Linked DNA regions of Homo sapiens: region 1 is linked to region 2. The links come from fine-mapping of genetic effects on gene expression. A gene starts in region 2. The other region holds a variant in brackets. All regions are shown on one strand. Distances are between the middles of the regions.

Region 1 (8,595 bases), 63 kb after region 2:
TAGGGATAAACTTAAAGGACAGATGACACATTGGTCATGTCCGTGATAAGGAAAGGCATTGAAATATGCACCATGCCGGGGGGGACTTGAGCCAAATGCAGAAAATGATCATAATTATTTCATGAAAATTAGTACTCTGAAGAAATGCCTCCTTCCCAGTGGGATGAATTCTTATGTCACAGGAGCTGGGTTTGACTCTTATCTGTGAGATTAACCTGAAGAAATTTTAAAAACTTGTTAACAACTTTTAGAAGTTGGTGTTGGAAAGAACGTATCAAGGGCATAGGACAGGATTTAGGGTGTTGAAATTAAATGTTTGAGAAAAGTTCAAAGTTATATGTCTGGAGAACAGAACAAGAAGAAGAAAAAACTCGGAGGAGTCTGAATTTTAGCTTGTGGATTTAAAGTAGAAAAATATGGAAATAGGCATTATAGTACCATTGGGGGAATATGAGCTAGTTTTAATTCATTTAATACATTAACTTAGAATTGTCATATATGTTATGTGGAACTATAATTTTCTAAGAATTTAAAGAGTAGTTGGACTACAACAAAATTCATCTAATACCTGTGTTAAACACTACTTAATCTGTCTTTGATAAATCAGAAGGTTCTTTGGTATCCTAAGGGTCAATAAAAAAGAAACAATAGTGGTTGTCTCAATTTCCAATAAATGTGTGTTCATTTTATAAGAAAAATAATTGTATATATGTAGGAAGTGCATTACAAACATATGACTGGAAGACATAATTGATGGCTTCTCATATGTGTTAGTTTTTTGGTTTTAAATATGTGTTCATGTATAAAGTGAAGACTGTTTCTCCCAAGGTAGAAATTCTGATTGATTATCCGTTTCTCTGCTTGTTTTAAGATTGCCTGCCTTAGTGTATCATTCAAAAGGGCGTTTACATTATATTTTTTTAAAACCTAAGAGGTAAGATAAAGATTGTAAAACAAAGCTTTCATATAAAATTTAATAATTTTGCAGTAGGCTTATAATTTTAATAATGGTCAAAACAGACACAATCCATCTATTCATCTTGAAATGATTTTTCTAATTAAGTAGAAATTAAAAGATTCAATATTTTTCAGGCTTGGAAGTCCTAAGCGATGACCCTGATCTAGTGAAGGTGGTTGAATCTTTAACTTGTGGAAAGATCTTTGCAGTGGAAATACTTGACAAAGCTGACATTCCACTTGTTGTTCTGTACGATACCTCAGGAGAAGATGATATCAATATCAATGCCACCTGCTTGAAGGCTATATGTGACAAGTCACTAGAGGTTCACCTGCAGGTACCACTGTGATCACTGTTGTTGCTTGTTACACATTTTGTATGAGAGAAAAATCACCAGAATATTATACATTTTAGGCTAACAATTGATAGAGACAGATTACATTTACATTGAGGGGAAAAAAGGAGGGAGTGGGGCTAGAAGGGAAAAAAGTACCAAAATGTTCAGAGTAATTGTTTCTTAGGAACTGGATTTTTTATTTTCCATTTCCTGCAATGAGCATCTATTGATTTTATATGAGATTATTTTGTAAAGATAATAAGGAAAAATAACACAAAAGAAGGGAAAATTGGGTCCATGAAGATGTTGATTATTAGCTTTAACTTTTTTTTAATGTGAAGAACATAAATGCCCCAAAAGAAGGAAGCCTTTAAATAAATTATAGAATATCTACCCAAGAGAATAGGATGAGATGTTAAAAATGGTCATTTTAAAGATTTCATAGAAACAATGGGAAAACTTCTGTTTTAATAAGTAGAACCACTGTGAATGTCTTTATTATGGTTTGACTAAAAATGGGTAAAATTGAATATTTACTTTGATTATGGTTTTTTAAAATTACTCAAATTCATATGACCTCTGGACACAGGTTAGAAAGTAGACTGATGATGGATTTGATTTTGTGAGAGTTTATTTTCACTTCTGTTAATGTTACAAAACATGGTTTATGTAATTCTTTTTCTAAATAAATGGGGAGAAAATAAACCAACATTAAAGATAGTCTTGGCCTTTCAGACAATGGAGTATGGGAATGTATGCACAATGTCTATTTTGTGCTTGGCATAAATGATATTAGACATTTCTTTTAAAAAGAAAAGAATCCAAATTAGTTTTGTACATTTAAGCTATAAATTGCATTTCATCTTACATATACTCTAACTTAAAGATTTTAAAATGCAAAGACTTGTTATGGGATGTTTAGGTAGATACCCTTTAGGTAGGTAAGAGCTGCATTCTGCTCTCAAGCATTCACGAGGTATCCTTTGTCTGTTATAGGTTGACGCCATGTACACAAATGTCAAAGTAACTAATATTTGCTCTGATGGGACACTCTACTGCCAGGTGCCTTGTAAGGGTCTGAACAAGCTCAGTGACCTTCTACGTAAGATAGAGGACTACTTCCATTGCAAGGTATAGCAGAACCTCTTCTACCTCTAAAATTAGCCCTAAAATTACAAGCAAGAGTAATTTACTAAATTGCATAAGTATGAACAATTTTTTTTGTATGAACGATTTTTTAGTAGTCTGAAATGGAATCTCTAGAATAGTAGGTAAAGAGCTCCAGACTTCAGAGCTTTAAAAGAAAAACACAACACTAGTTTCTGCAATGTAAAACGAAGATAGCAATAGTGTGTACCCTATAGGATTGTCCTGAGGACACTGTGCCTGGCATGTAGTCAGTGCACAGCAATCGGTAGATGTGTTATTTATAACATGCAGTTGATGATGCCACAGTGCAGCTGCCTGTGACTGTCTGCTAGAGCCAGCTGACTCTTCTGCCTTAGGCAAGGAGAAACCTTGGAATTTAGGAGGATAATAAAACTTTCCTCCTTAGTTCTGCCTTCATCTTCCTCCTTACCCATCACTCCTTGAGCTCTTTATGGACCCTGAGAACCTGCCACCTGATAAATTTGGTTCTGCAGTTCAAATTGTATTAATAAGCTCCTTATCCTTTAATTCTACTATTTTTTTCTGAATCGAGCTCTGTAGAGGTTTTATTGTGCTTTAAGTTCCTAAAATGGTTTCCTTACCTCCATTAGGACATTATGGTCATATTTCAGAATATGCTGTGGTTTCCAAATCACTAAACCCTACTGCCACTTCTGCCCTTACCCCCTCGTCCCTGGAAGTGAACTCTTCCCTCTAACCCACAAAGCACATCAGGCACCTCAGGGCATTCATATTCAGGTTTATATTTTAGCTATTTGGGTACTTATTTGCCTTTCTAGACCGTATGCTTCTTGAGGGCATAGACTGTGCCTTACCAATTTTCTGCATCCCTTACAGTATCTAATCTAGTGTCTTATGTAGAATAGGTATGCCAAAATATGTGCCGAATCAGCTTAAACCCGCATTCAAAGTACAGTCTGGAATTGAGACATTCCTATAGCTTTATCTTGTTCTGTGTTACAGAGGTTTAATTTTAAGTCTATCTTTGAAAAATCTGAAACCCCCAGCTTGGCTGACTCTAGTGACTCATTTGTATGGATGTTGTCCTTATAACCTTTGGTGGTGAAAAGGACTCGATATTTCCTACTGCACTCGTAACCTAAGTGAGACATTGCCTTTGGGGAGAGTAGAAACACACACCCTGAACAGAAAGAGACCATGGACAGGTACCCCCAACTTCAAACTACAGCAGAAGAGGAAGATGAGGAGACTTCATCTTTACAGCTGTGATTTGTTGGTATTTAACTGGCACTGACATACATATTTGTGTTGATAACATTTCTTTGTTTTGGAATTAAAATGTTATCTTTGCATCTAAATGTGAAGAGATGAAAATGAAAAGAATAGGCCCACAGACAGCTCTCGCAACCTCCTCACTGTTCTTCTTTTTGTCAGATTCAACACCTCTCTTCATGTGTAACTGATGGAGCCAGTGCCTAAGTGAATCATAATGATCTTATGCTAATGTTTTTAGACATGTTAACAATGCTGATTTATGAGCCATGTGCATGTAGGGAGAGTAAACTACTGATGTCAACAAATGTATGAGTAACAAGACAAAAGTTTTATAACCCTGTGTGTTTGCTGCATCCATTGCTGGAAGTCTGACTACATGTCGGTTAAGTCTGCCAGTGCCACAGCGATCTGTTTTTCTAATGGTGTAGCAATATGCTCTTTGCTAAGAGTAATAAGAGTATCATGCATTTCTGTTTTGCAGCACATGACCTCTGAGTGCTTTGTTTCATTACCCTTCTGTGGGAAAATCTGCCTCTTCCATTGCAAAGGAAAATGGTTACGAGTAGAGGTAAAAATCAGTCACTTGGCTTTTTAATCTTAACTTATTGTGAAATATTTCAAATATACACATAGGTTTTTTTAAAAAATTGAATAAATACTCACAGACTCATCATCAGTTTATGAAATAAAACATGACCAGTATGGTTGAAATTTCCTGGTTGAAGTTATGGTCGAAGAAAGTTTACATCTCCTTTCTTCTGCCTCCACCCCAGTTTCATTTGTGTTTTTCTCATTCTTACTTGTTTATATTCTTACTGTATTTGTACTTGTAGATACACACTTTTACTATATATTTTTAATATTTAAATAGTGGAAATATATTAATGAATATGTGTATATAATATAAAGGCAAATGAATAAGTGTAACTAAATGAATAAATATTTTCAAACTTTAT[G/A]TAAGTTGTAAGAGGTATTGGTCATGCTTTTTCATTCATTATGTTTGTGAGATTCATTCATGTTGATGTGTGCAGCTGTAGTTCATCTATTTTTACTGCTGTATGATTGAACACTATTAATATGCCAACGTTATCACTCCATCTTCCTGATGATGGATATTTAGATTGTTCCTAATTTTTTGAACCTTCCTGTCTGTGTCTTCCAGGGTACATACATAGGAATGGAGTTTCTAGGTATTGGGAATGCATATCTTCAATTTTACTAGATCTTGCTTAATTGCTCTCCAAAGTTGCCTTCCATTGAGAGTATATCCCTTTAAGAACTGTGGCTTCATGGGGCAGTGTCAGATCCTCCCTGCCTCCTGCCTGGATCTAAGGCCATGTCTCCTGCCCAAGACAATTTTGGCTTTAAAGTTCACATACTCTTCTATTTCTAGTCACTAACAATTGTCTTATTTTCTTGCAAGCTCAGTTACGAACTTGAAGGGAGTTTTGTTGTGGTTTATCTTGCGTTTCTATATGTTTTTAAAAAGGCAAGTTTTGGATTTTTGTGATTGCTTTCCCTCCCTCTCTTCATCTAGTTTGAGGTGGCACACACCTATAATCCCAGCACTTTGGGAGGCCAAGGCGGGAGGATCACTTGATGTCAGGAGTTTGAGACCAGCCTGGTCACAATAGTGACATACCATCTCTACAAAACCAAAAAGAAAAAAAAAAAAAACTAAACAAAAAAAAATTAAGAAAAAAACATTGGCTTGATTTTTTTTTTCTTTTTTTTCTTTGATACAGAGGTTCTTAACCTAGATGCAAGGACCTCAACTTTCAGGGGGGTCCCTCAACCCTCCTGGAATTGTATGCAAATTGTGTGTGTGCTTGTATTATATATTTTGGGGGAAAAGTATGCATAATTTTGTAAGATTCTCAAATCAACCCCCAAAAGGTAAGAATCGTTGCTTTACTGAATTTTTTAAATGCTGCACAGCAACATTTTGATAACTTAATTGAATTGATTTTTTTCATTATTTAAATAAAACTTGGTCATGTCTACTTGAATGAGAGTAGCAGTTTTGAAGTAATTATTGCTATTAATGTGACTGTATGTCAGAAGGCTGAAATCTCGGGTCATATGACCAAGGGGTATGTGCCTAGGTATAAACTTCAAAAACATGACTCGTTGAAAAGGTCATGGCATTCTTCAGATCTTAAAGTTCTGTGTGATTTAATTTAAAATATATAAGTGTATGCATACTAACTTTTTCAACTTTTTATTTTGAAATAATTTTCCTTTTTTACAAGTTGCAAAAATAGCACAAAGAGGTCTCATTGGCCTTTTACCTTCTCAAATGTTAACATCTATATAACCATTGCATAATTATCAAAGCCAGGAAATTGACATTAATACAAAACCATTAGTTAATCCACAGAACATACATTTCCCAAATTGTCCCACAAAGTACTTTTTCTGCTCCAGCATACAATCTGGATCCCACATTGTCTTTAGTTGTCATGTCTTCTTAGTATACTCCACCCTGGCAGTTACTCAGCCTTTCTTTGCTATTCCTGACTTTTTGAAGAATAGCATTATGTTGTAAAGTATCTCACAATTTGAGTATCTTCATGTTTAAATTTAGGTTATGCATTTTTGGCAGAAAGAAGCCTTCTTAGTGTATGTCCAAATATTTTAGATAAATATCTAGTATTATTTTTGTTATTATCAAATTGTATATTGTCTACCTTCAAGGTAGACAAAAGGTTTGAGTACTCATTCTCTTAGTGATGTATGGAAAGTCAGAGAAGGAAAAATAATTAGTGAAAAGCAGATCCTATGTTTAATCATGTATTTATTCTTGATAGTTATACAAATAATTGCAAAGGTAATTATTGTTTTGACCCCAAAACAATAGTTTTTCCCTTATATTTTAATATTTTGGAGAACAGACTGTATCTTATAATCAGCAATATATAATAATGTATCAAATCATTTTATAATAAATCACGTCCTAGAATTGGAGAAATAATAAATATTACTATACTTATTTTACTGTTTATTGTCAGTTTGCTGATTATTACTGATTAACTAGATGTTGAAAGCAATTCTACTCTAAAACAATGTTTAGTAGGCTGGGCGCGGTGGCTCACACCTGTAATCGTAGCACTTGGGAGGCCAAGGTGGGTGGATCTTTTGAGGTCAGGAGTTTGAGACCAGCCTGGCCAACATGGTGAAACCCCATCTCTACTAAAAAATACAAAAAAATTAGCTGGTTGTGGTGGTGGGCACCTGTAATCCCAGCTACTTGGGAGGCTGAGGCAGGAGAATCACTTGAACCTGGGAGGCGGAGGTTGCAGCGAGCTGAGATTGCACCACTGCACTCCAGCCTGGGTGACAGATCAAGACTCTGTCTCAAAATAATAATAATAATAATATTTAGTAAATAAATACATTTTAAATTAGGGGAAAATTTTAACACTGATAGTCTGTTCCTTTTAATATGCATTCAGGATTGTACAAAATGTAATTGCACAGAAGCATTTTGGTCTTTTGAATATGCTAATAAATGAGCCAACACTTATCTCATTTCAGATCACAAATGTTCACAGCAGCCGGGCTCTTGATGTTCAGTTCCTGGACTCTGGCACTGTGACATCTGTAAAAGTGTCAGAGCTCAGGGAAATTCCACCTCGGTTTCTACAAGAAATGATTGCAATACCACCTCAGGTACTATGTTACCAGCCTGGGAGATTTGCTGGAACAGATTTGGATGTGTTCATAATCTTATTGTAAGATGCCTTCTCAGTTTTGATCTCATTAATTTTTAAGAAAATTGGAAATTGTCCAAATGTGGTTGTCTGCTGGTTTTCAGAAGTAAAACATTGCTGACTTAGACAAGAAGACCAGTCATATTTACATACTGTTGTTTGAGAAATGTTTGTTTTCAAGAGCATCCAGTCATTAAGCTGTGTTGTCCAGTTACAGGTTCCATTTTGATAATTAGATGCCAGTACTGACTTATGTACAGTTCCAGAATATTGTGTATAAATGTTTATTTTTAGAGTTTTTAGTTTATTTAGGTAACCATTTTCTTTGGAAATCTGTTTAGACATAATCATTTTCTCGGTGACTTCCCCACCATACATTTTAATTAAAAGATGAACTTCGGCTGATCCTTTCTTTATTCATGAATGTTCAGATGATAAGGATTTTGAATATTTTGAATTGTTTAGAACTACTCACTACCTTTAGGAGAAATAGAGGATTTTGTGCAGAAATTAATATCTTTTAAAAAATAAAACAATGCGGTATTCTACAACTTCAAGATGCCCAGTTACTAATATTTTCAAGAAGACATCTTCTGCCATCAAACTCAGTAAATAAAACATTGTCCATAATTAGCATGGCTTTTGACATGTCTCTCCCTCCCATCACCATTGCTTTTTCTAGCCGTGACTATTACAGAGAAGCTTTTTTCAAAATCATTTTTACTGTCCATTGTTCAGCCATAATTCTGGAAATTGATGGGCCTTTAAGTGCTACTCTGACTTAATAATACCTCTTGTTGGAACAGCCATGCAGGGCCAGGCTTACCTAGAAAAGATCCCCTGGGCTGGAGGGCAGTTGGGAATCTGTCCCACCGCTGTGATTGTCTGAAAGTCCACAACAGTACCACCTGTATGCTACGGCATTAACAATCACTAAACTTTTTTTTTTCATAATCTTGTGTAGGTTTATTATTTGACAAATGGGAAGACTGTTGGTTGGGAGTACTTTAAAAGCCAGCCAGCCCAAGCCTCTGGCTCACAACATCTCTCCAAGAGTCTAAATCAGAGTACCAAACTGATGGACTGTAAGCCAAAGCCAACCCTTAAATACTGAGTTTTGGCTCTTGGCTCTTACAGTATTTTAAAAATGTGAACTGGTTGCCAGGATTTTAAAATTAGGA
Region 2 (8,595 bases):
TTCGCCACAAAAGGGTAAGAACCATTGTGCCTACGGAGTAACCAGTCTGTTCCATCTCTGATATCTCTTAATTCTCCTGAAATCCAATTATATCCAGGGTATGGGGGTGAATTCTTGAACTCCCTGGGTCTTGGACCACTTCACAAAGACAAACAAACAAAAAAAACAACGTTCTAATCTGCCCTTGCTCTGTCAGATACCCAGGCAATTCTGAGAACCTCCTGATGTCTTGGACAAAAATCTACCTGCAGAACAGACACTTTACCCAAGAACACATATGAAGGGCCAATAAACACATGAAGAGATGCTCAACATCATTAGTCCTGGGGAAATGCAAATTGACACCTCGGTGTGCTATCCCTATACATCCACTGGAATGGCTAAAATTAGAAAGACAGGCAATACCAAGTATTGGAGAAGATTTAGAGCAACTGGAAGTCTTACACATTACCAAGGAGAGAGTAAAAGTGGGAGTACAAAATGGCACAGCCACATTAGAAAACAGTTTGACGGTTTCTTAAAACGTTAAGCGTACACCTATCCCACAACCAGATGTTCTATACTTAAGTCTTTATGCCAAAAAACCACATCACCACACAAAGACCTGCATATGGCTGTTATTACAGCTTTATTTATAACAGCCCAAACTGGAAACAACACAAATGTGCATGAAATGTGAATGAATAAACAAATTGTGATAAAGCCATGCAATGGCTTACTATTCAGCACTAAAAAGGAACCGACTACCACTATGTGCAACAACATGGATGACTTTCAAAACCATCATGCTAAGTGATGAAGCCAGACACAAAAGATGACATCCTGCATGATTCCACTTATATGATATGCTAGAAAAGGCAAACCTATGATGACAAAAATCAGATCAGTAGCTGCTAGTGGATAAAGGTATGGGGAGAGAATTAACTGTAAAGGGGCACAGGAGAAGTTTTGGAATTATGAACTAATCCCATATGTTGATTGTGGTGGTAGGTACACAATTAAAGACGTTGGTCAAAACTCATCACACTGTACATTTAAATATGTATTATATGTCAACTATCAAAAAAGCTGGTTTAAAAAAAACTAGCTGCAGAGCTTCATTTTTCTTTACATATAGGGCAGTCTAAACATGGAACATCTTTGCAAGGATAAAGGATCTCAAACTTGGGTTCAACTCACATTATTTTATGATTTATTCTACATATTAGACTCTGAAATTTTTTTTTATTTCCTGCTACTACTAGCACTCTTTCCTTTGGCAGCTGCTTTTTACATCTTTCCCTTCTAAAATGTGGAGCCACAGGATGTTGTGAGTACTGCAGAGACCAAATTGGGGCTGGTTGTCTTTTAGGTCTGTCTTGGTCCATTCCTGCTGCTATAACAAAATATCTTAGACTGGATAATTTATAAATAATAGAAATTTTTTTCTTACAGTTCTGGAGGTTTGGAAGTCTAAGATCAAGGTGCCAGCAGATTTGGCATCCTGTGAGGACTTGCTCTCCTCTTCAAAGATGGCACCTTCTTGCTGAATCCTTACACAGTGGAAGGGGCAGAAGGCTCCCTTAAGCCCCTAAGGGCACTAATTCTATTCACAAGGACGAAGCCATCATGACTTCTCAAAGGTCCCACCTCTCAACACCGCAAGAATGGGGATTAGGTTTCAACATGAATTTTGTAGGGACACAAACATTCAGACCATAGCAAAGTCTATTAAAAATCCACTGCAATGTTTGGAGTAGACTGGAAGGGAAAGAACAGAAAGACATCTGAAATAGACTGAAATAGAGCAAAGGAGATGCAGAGAAATTCCAGAGAGAGACATTTAGGCAAACTTAGTCAGGGACCAGATCTAGGATATGAAAGAGAACAGTGTTCAAAGAAAAGCCCTGTTCAAAAACTCTGAACAATTCCCTACCGCCTTTGGGGAAACATCCAAGTGTCTGAGAGCTGGATATCAGGTTTTCCAGATTTACTTCCAATTTTTCTTTGTATTGCCTACTGCATCTTTTCACTGAATCAAAAGCTCTATAAGCACAGGCTTATCCATGAAAATTTGTTATTTAACAGCAGGTGTTCAATATATATTAGTTGATTGTCCATTCACCTTCTGACGGATGTTTGTATTCTTTCCATGTGGGGCTACGGCCAACACAACTGCCATGAGCACTCTTGTACAGGTTTTTGTGTGGACATCTGCTTTCATTTCTCCTGGGTAAATACCCAGGAGCAGAATTGCTGGGTTGCGTGGTAGGTTTGGTACATCCCTACAATACCATTCAGCAATAGAAAGACATGAACTATTGATACATGTAACAACATGGATGAACATAATTTGCTAAATAAAAGAAGCCAGGCAGCCCCCCAAAGGATAGTACATACGATTCCATACATAAAAGTTTTACATATAACTCTAGAAAAAGCAAAATAATCTATAGCAACAGAAAGCAGGTGAGCAGTTGAGGGGGCAAGTGACAGGGAGGGACAAGATATAAGAATTACAAAGGATCACAGTAAAACTTTTTTGGGTGATGGATATGTTCATGATTTTGATTGCAGTGATGGTCTCACAGTGATATATATATATCAAAACTTATCAAACTGTACATTTTAAACATTCAGTTTATTGTATGTCTTATACATGGCAGTCAAGCTGTAATAAAATACCGGTTGAATAAGCAGCAGGTTCTCAGTAAATGCATAATTTATCAAGCTGTACATTTTAAACGTTCAGTTTATTGTATGTCTTATACATGGCAGTCAAGCTGTAATAAAATACCGGTTGAATAAGCAGCAGGTTCTCAGTAAATGCATAATTTATCAAGCTGTACATTTTAAACGTTCAGTTTATTGTATGTCTTATACATGGCAGTCAAGCTGTAATAAAATACCGGTTGAATAAGCAGCAGGTTCTCAGTAAATGCATATCCAATGGTGCAGAGAAGTGTTCAATGTTGGCTGCAGGGATGCAAAGCAGGTGCCAATAAGTGTTGGTGGAATTAATGTGCAGAATAAATAAGTATTCACTTATTAGGTGTTCAATAACTTTAGAGTGAATGAATAAATTTGACAGATATTTATTGCTGATCGTGTGCTAGGCACTATCCTAGGCTCTGGGAATAGGTTAAGGAACCAAACAAAAATCCTTGTGCTCACAGAGCTTTAATTTTAGAAGGATAGCAGACAATAAAAGCATAAGTAAAATACATATAGTGTGCTAGATAGGTGCTAAGGAGAAATAAGGTTGAGAATGGGGATAGGGAAAGTCAAGGAAGGAGGTTGACATGTTAGAGACTGTGTCCACCGTCATTGAAAGGGTAATGCTTGAGAAAGGCCTGAAGGATATGGGCGGACAGAGTGTGTGTCTAGGGCAATAAAAAGTAACTGCTCCAGATGTTGAAGAAAATAATGTGCAGGAGTTGAACTGTTTGGAAGGAGGGTGAGCCCCATAGAAGGAGCCACCCTCGCCCCCTGCTGAGTCCCGGCTCGCTCGGCCCGCGCGTACCTGCGTTGTCCACCAGGAGGCGCTCCCGCACCCGCCCCGCAGGCGTCTTCCGCCGCCGGCCGGTGCGTGGGCACGCGCAGAAACCGCTAGGTGGCGACGGTTTCCCTTCCCACGCGCGGACGCCGGCGTGGGCCGACGCGGCCGGAGCGCCCGCGCGTGCGCAGAGCCGAGGCCAGGCTGCCCTCGAAGCGGGGCGGGGCGAAGCGGGGCGGGGCCGAGCAGGGCGGGGCGGGGGCTTGAGGTGATTCCCAAGCCGCGGGGCGGCTCCGGTGGTGCGGGGAAACCGAAAGTGGGCGGCGGCCGCGGCGGGGCCCCTGGCGGAGACGGCGGCAGGAGCTGGGCCCAGAGACGCGGGGACGGGCCGTGGGCCCCCGGAACGAGGTGAGTGCAGGTCCTGCGGGCTCCGGGCGCGACAGGTGCCGGGCGACGTCGGACGAGATTTCGGGCGGGCGCGGCGCACCTGGGTCACCGGTGGGACCGCGGCCAGGGCCGGGGGCTCCAACAGGCTCGGGGCCTTTTCCCTGCAGCCGCAGGGGATTGCCCCCGCCCCGACGCCTGGGAACCGGGCTGGGCGCCGGGGGAGTTGGAGTTCCAGAGCGTTGTGTTTTAAATCTCTGAAGGGACCCTGCTCCGGGCCGGGCGTTCACGCGGGAGTCGGACGGAGCCTCCTGCCGCCTCGGAAGCTCTGCGCCGTGGGGGAAATGCAGCAGCGGGGTGTGGACGCGGGCGGGAGATGCGGACCAGGAAGTGGTTCCCGCTACCGGCGCGACAGGCCGCAGCCGCCGCCCCCAGCGAGGGATGTCCGCGCTCCCCTATTTGAACCCAAGTATTTTACACCACGAACTTCTCTTGAAGGTCTCTATAATCTGGAGACGAGCCCCAGGCAGGCCGCTTAAGTAATGCAGGACACACATCCCCATTTCTCTCAAACGAGGAGCACCCAGTGGGTACAGAGCACCCAGCTGGGAGGGAAACATGGATCCGTGAGTAAGTTGTCTCTCAACTTTCAGTAGCATCCCCTCAGCAGGGTCAGACTCTCAGCTTCAGCTTGCTAGGAGGGAGCTTGGAGCCGGCATATCTTTCTGCTCCCATTCACTTGAGAGGTATATTTCCATTAATAGCTAAAGGTACCATTCTCAAATAATTTCTAAGAGCAGGGAAGGGAAACAACCACATTAGAACAAGTCCTGGCCCAGAAGAATTCTGATCACCGCCCATCCAAACCAAACCAAACCAAAAAACCACAGATCTAGTTCATTAACCCTCCTACCAACACCTCTCTGCTCTCCAATCGTGCCGGTGAAAAAAATGCAGAGAAATGTTCTCTCTAGAGAGATAGGCAACAGCTTAATAGCAGAAGTAAAACTTGGACCCAAATCCCTGTCTCGTCCTGGGCTGCCTTGATGTGTATGAATGTGTTGCATACTGCAAATAATGTGAACTTTGCAGACCTGGATTGAAATCTGGGCTTCTCATTTTACAAATTGTGTGATCTTGAACAAATTACATGCTTTCTCTTAGCCTGGTTTTCTATGTGTCAAATAGAGGTACCTGGCTTACTTTGCAAGGCTTTTCCAAGATAACCACTGTATATCCTTTGCCTCATAATAATTGCCAAGCAGTATTCACTCTCTTCCTCCCAACAAACGGTCCATGTTTTACATAATTGGATTTTAGTTTTTTGAGGGCAGGGACACAAAGATCTTTGTGTTTACTATATAATATAAATGGGCACATGGTGGATATTTTTGCATTTCCTCTCAGCTGACATTCATTGAGCATCAGTTACGTGCAAAGTACTGTTCTGGGTATAGGGAATTGCCCCTGGGGCCAGCTGGATTAGCACTCACATCTCCTGTGCCCCAATCCAGGGCCCTTTGGTGGCACACAGCCTCCGTCTTTGGTAGTTGCACGGTGAGACTGTGAGGCAGCAGTTGGCAGTGCCTTCAGATTTCAGTCTCTGTAGATTGAAAATGAAGTGTAATCCCCTGCTAATGCCCTTTTAAGTGTACAGGTTGAACATGGCTGAATGAACTATTGTATTGTGCATCAAGAGATTTTAAACTCCTTGCAGAACCCCTCTTTTAAGTTCTCTGTGCAATATAATCTAGCTGGATACTTAATGTGAATATAAAGAAAAAATATAATCCAACCCCGAGTGCCTAATTTGTGTTTGTCAAGTGCTGTTTTCAAGAATTGAGATTTGACATAGAGTGCTTTGCATCTGGACACTTTCACAGAAGTTCCTTGGTGAAATTTTATATTTACGTGAACTGTTGTTTCTTTGTGCCAAACCTGCTTTTTCCTCCCTCCACTCCCACCTCTGTACTTTTGAAAGCTTCATTCTTGTCATTATTTCCCTGTAAGCCAAATATGTTTACAGTTTTGTCTTTCAAACTAAAAGTAATTAATTTTGCAATTTTTAGTTGAAGACATGTATATATGCCAATCAGAACTTGATCAGTGCAAGCTACCCAGTGTGACTTCAAAGTAAGCTTGGCATTTTAGCCTGTGCAGCTTTGTCATGAGTAAGCAAACTCGGTTTTCATTACATATTTGGACCTTATTTCAGCCTTCAGTGAATCCAAGGAAAGTTGAGAATCATGGCTCTTGCCCACCTTTCTTATCTTCCTTGTGAAAAAAAGAGACCTGAAGTGACTTGTCACAGGTAATCAGTAGCGGAACTAGGATTAAGACACAAACTCCTTACTAAGCCACTTTATTATCTCAGGGTTTTTTCGTCTAGTATGTAGACTTATGGAAATCCCTTACTTACGTACATTCGTGGTATGCAGTTAAAATGCACGAATAATTTGGAACTTGAGATCACAAGAATAAAAAAGATAACTCCCTGAAAAAAACTCTTAAGGAAGTATACCATCATCTGAGGGTATTAATCATCTTTTTCCTTTAAAAACCGGTTGGTGAAGGAGTAATTGAAGTGGTAACAGACTATGATTAGAAAGAAAAGAGCATTTAAAAGTGTCGCAAGGTGAGAAATCATTTATTGGGTAAAGATCTTAGGAAAAAATTTTCCCTCTGAGGCTCAGTTTATTGATTTGTAAGATAAGGAGCTTGGGTTAGCCTAGACGATGCCTAAAATGTGTCAGCACAGACATTATGGGACTTTAAGTTCCCGCTGTTGCTAAAATAGTGTCTTCAAGGAGAAGGGCAGTTAGTTATTAGAAGTATATGCCCTAAAGAGATATCCAGATACTTCAAAATTGAACATCTAACTAAAAGAAGCTAAGAGAGATTACTTGGTGTTTTCAGTTTACCCTAATAATTCTTCTGATTTGTTTTAAGATTTAGTGCCACTCGACAACTTAAACTGATGACATGAAAAATGTAGTAAGGAAGATGAGCCAAATCATACAGTTGGAAATAGTTGAGCAAGAAGAAACTTAGAAAAGAGAAGGCATAGGATGGAAGCCAGACTAGCTCAGCTAAAGGCCTTTGACACCAGTAGTTAGAGGAAGCAGATAACATGCAAATGACTGAGCCAGGGAGGATCAATCAATGGTAGAAGGCGTTTATCTGGGATACACCAAAACCAGGTTCTTCAGAATAGGACTTCCTTGGGCCATTTTCAGGTATAGTAAAGAGAAAAGCTGTGAATTTACAAAATGCAGTTTTGAAGTAGAGTGAGAATTATTTTAGGCCACTTAAATTATTTAAATTTTGTTTCCCTAAAGATTGTCATCACTCCCCAACTCCCCACCCCACCTCATGTGCATTATTAGTGTCTTGGATAATTAAGATTAACTGGGTATAAGCGAAGAAAAAAAGGAAAGCACGAAAGCATAAAAAAGATAGTCTCAGCTACTCAGGAGGCTGAGGCGGGAGAATCACTTGAACCCGGCAGGCGGAGGTTGCAGTGAGCCAAGATTGCGCCACTGCACTCCAGTTGAAATTCCTATGATATACTTTCTTTTATGCTTCTAATGGATGATGTCTAAGATATTAAACTTTATTTTTATAGTTAGAACAAAGTATTCTTATATACCTTGAGAGTATAATTGCCATCTTCCGAAAGTTTCAAAAAAAAGTCATCATGAGCCACGTAACAAAACTCAGAGCATTTCCAAAGTGATATAGTTTAGAAAATAATGACGATTTTTTTTAAAGCTTACACTTTCTTTTTCGTTCACTGCCTGAAGTGATGTTGCTAATGTGGGAATTGAAATCAGACTGGCAAGTCGTGCATTTGAATACAATCACATTTAGCCTTCCAGGTTTTACTGCATTTAACTGCTTCTCACCAGCTTGGAGACCCACAGTCTTATACTCCAAGGGATTCCCCTTCCCTTCAAAAAGTTGTTTGCAAATAGAGAGTTATAGTCCTCCATGAAAGATAGCATACTTTAAAAAGGCAGGCAGGGGGAGGGAACTTAATTTACAGATTGCAACCATGTGGTCAAGCGTTGATTCTCAGTCTCCTCAAGTATGAGGCCATTTTTTGTAGCTTTAGAAAAATTTCGTGAAACCTCATACACTAGTAGTTGTGCTTGCAGTATCCATTGGTCAATTAAACATATAACTACCAAAAGCTGTTGTGAATTTAATATCAGTTTGTGTTTATGGATCCCAATAATATCTGCACACTCTGAAAAACAGGACTATAAGTACATGTGAGACATTTACTAATATTCAAGCCGTGCCTGCTGCTTGTCAGGATGTGTGGGCTCCTTGCAATCATGCTGCGGCCCTGACAGGGCCTAATCTGGCTCAGAGTGGACATGCTCAGAAATAATCTACTTGATGATTCTCAACCACAGTTTGGTGTTGCGATTGGCTGTCTCATTCAGTTTATAAGAATTGTTAACATTTGCAGATAATTTTTTAGTAACTTAAATTGGATTCAGAGTTATGCCTTTAATAGCTCACCTATGTTATGCTGTATTTTAGTGAGTAGGAGAGAAAAGGAGTGGTAGGTGGATGGAGAATTTCTTATTCATTCAACAAATATTTATTGAGCTCTCGGTGGGCTAGGCACTAGGGATTCAGCAATGAACAAAACAGACACAAATCCTTGCTTTCATGGAGCTTGCATTGAAGTTGGGGAGAAAGATAAAACCATTAAATGGAGAAGA

The links. PIP is the estimated chance that this variant, and not a neighbour inherited with it, causes the effect. A credible set is the group of variants that fine-mapping cannot tell apart.
Region 1: its variant is the best candidate, but not a certain one, in a credible set for the expression of TDRD7 in blood mononuclear cells (TOPMed, PIP 0.64).

The regions. Positions count from the first base shown.
Region 1 is chr9:97,471,201-97,479,795 of GRCh38, forward strand. It overlaps TDRD7 (tudor domain containing 7), which reads left to right. Exons shown (of 17, transcript NM_014290.3): 10 at 1,093-1,295; 11 at 2,292-2,426; 12 at 4,183-4,269; 13 at 7,239-7,373. Among named protein-coding and RNA genes, the nearest start is that of TMOD1, 26 kb to the right of the region's middle. The variant G/A (reference allele first, on the strand shown) is at 4,658.
Region 2 is chr9:97,408,356-97,416,950 of GRCh38, forward strand. It overlaps TDRD7 (tudor domain containing 7), which reads left to right and starts at 3,741. Exons shown (of 17, transcript NM_014290.3): 1 at 3,741-3,883. RefSeq lists silencers at 3,428-3,777, 3,798-4,007, 4,092-4,386 and enhancers at 3,722-4,223, 4,224-4,723, 4,328-4,587.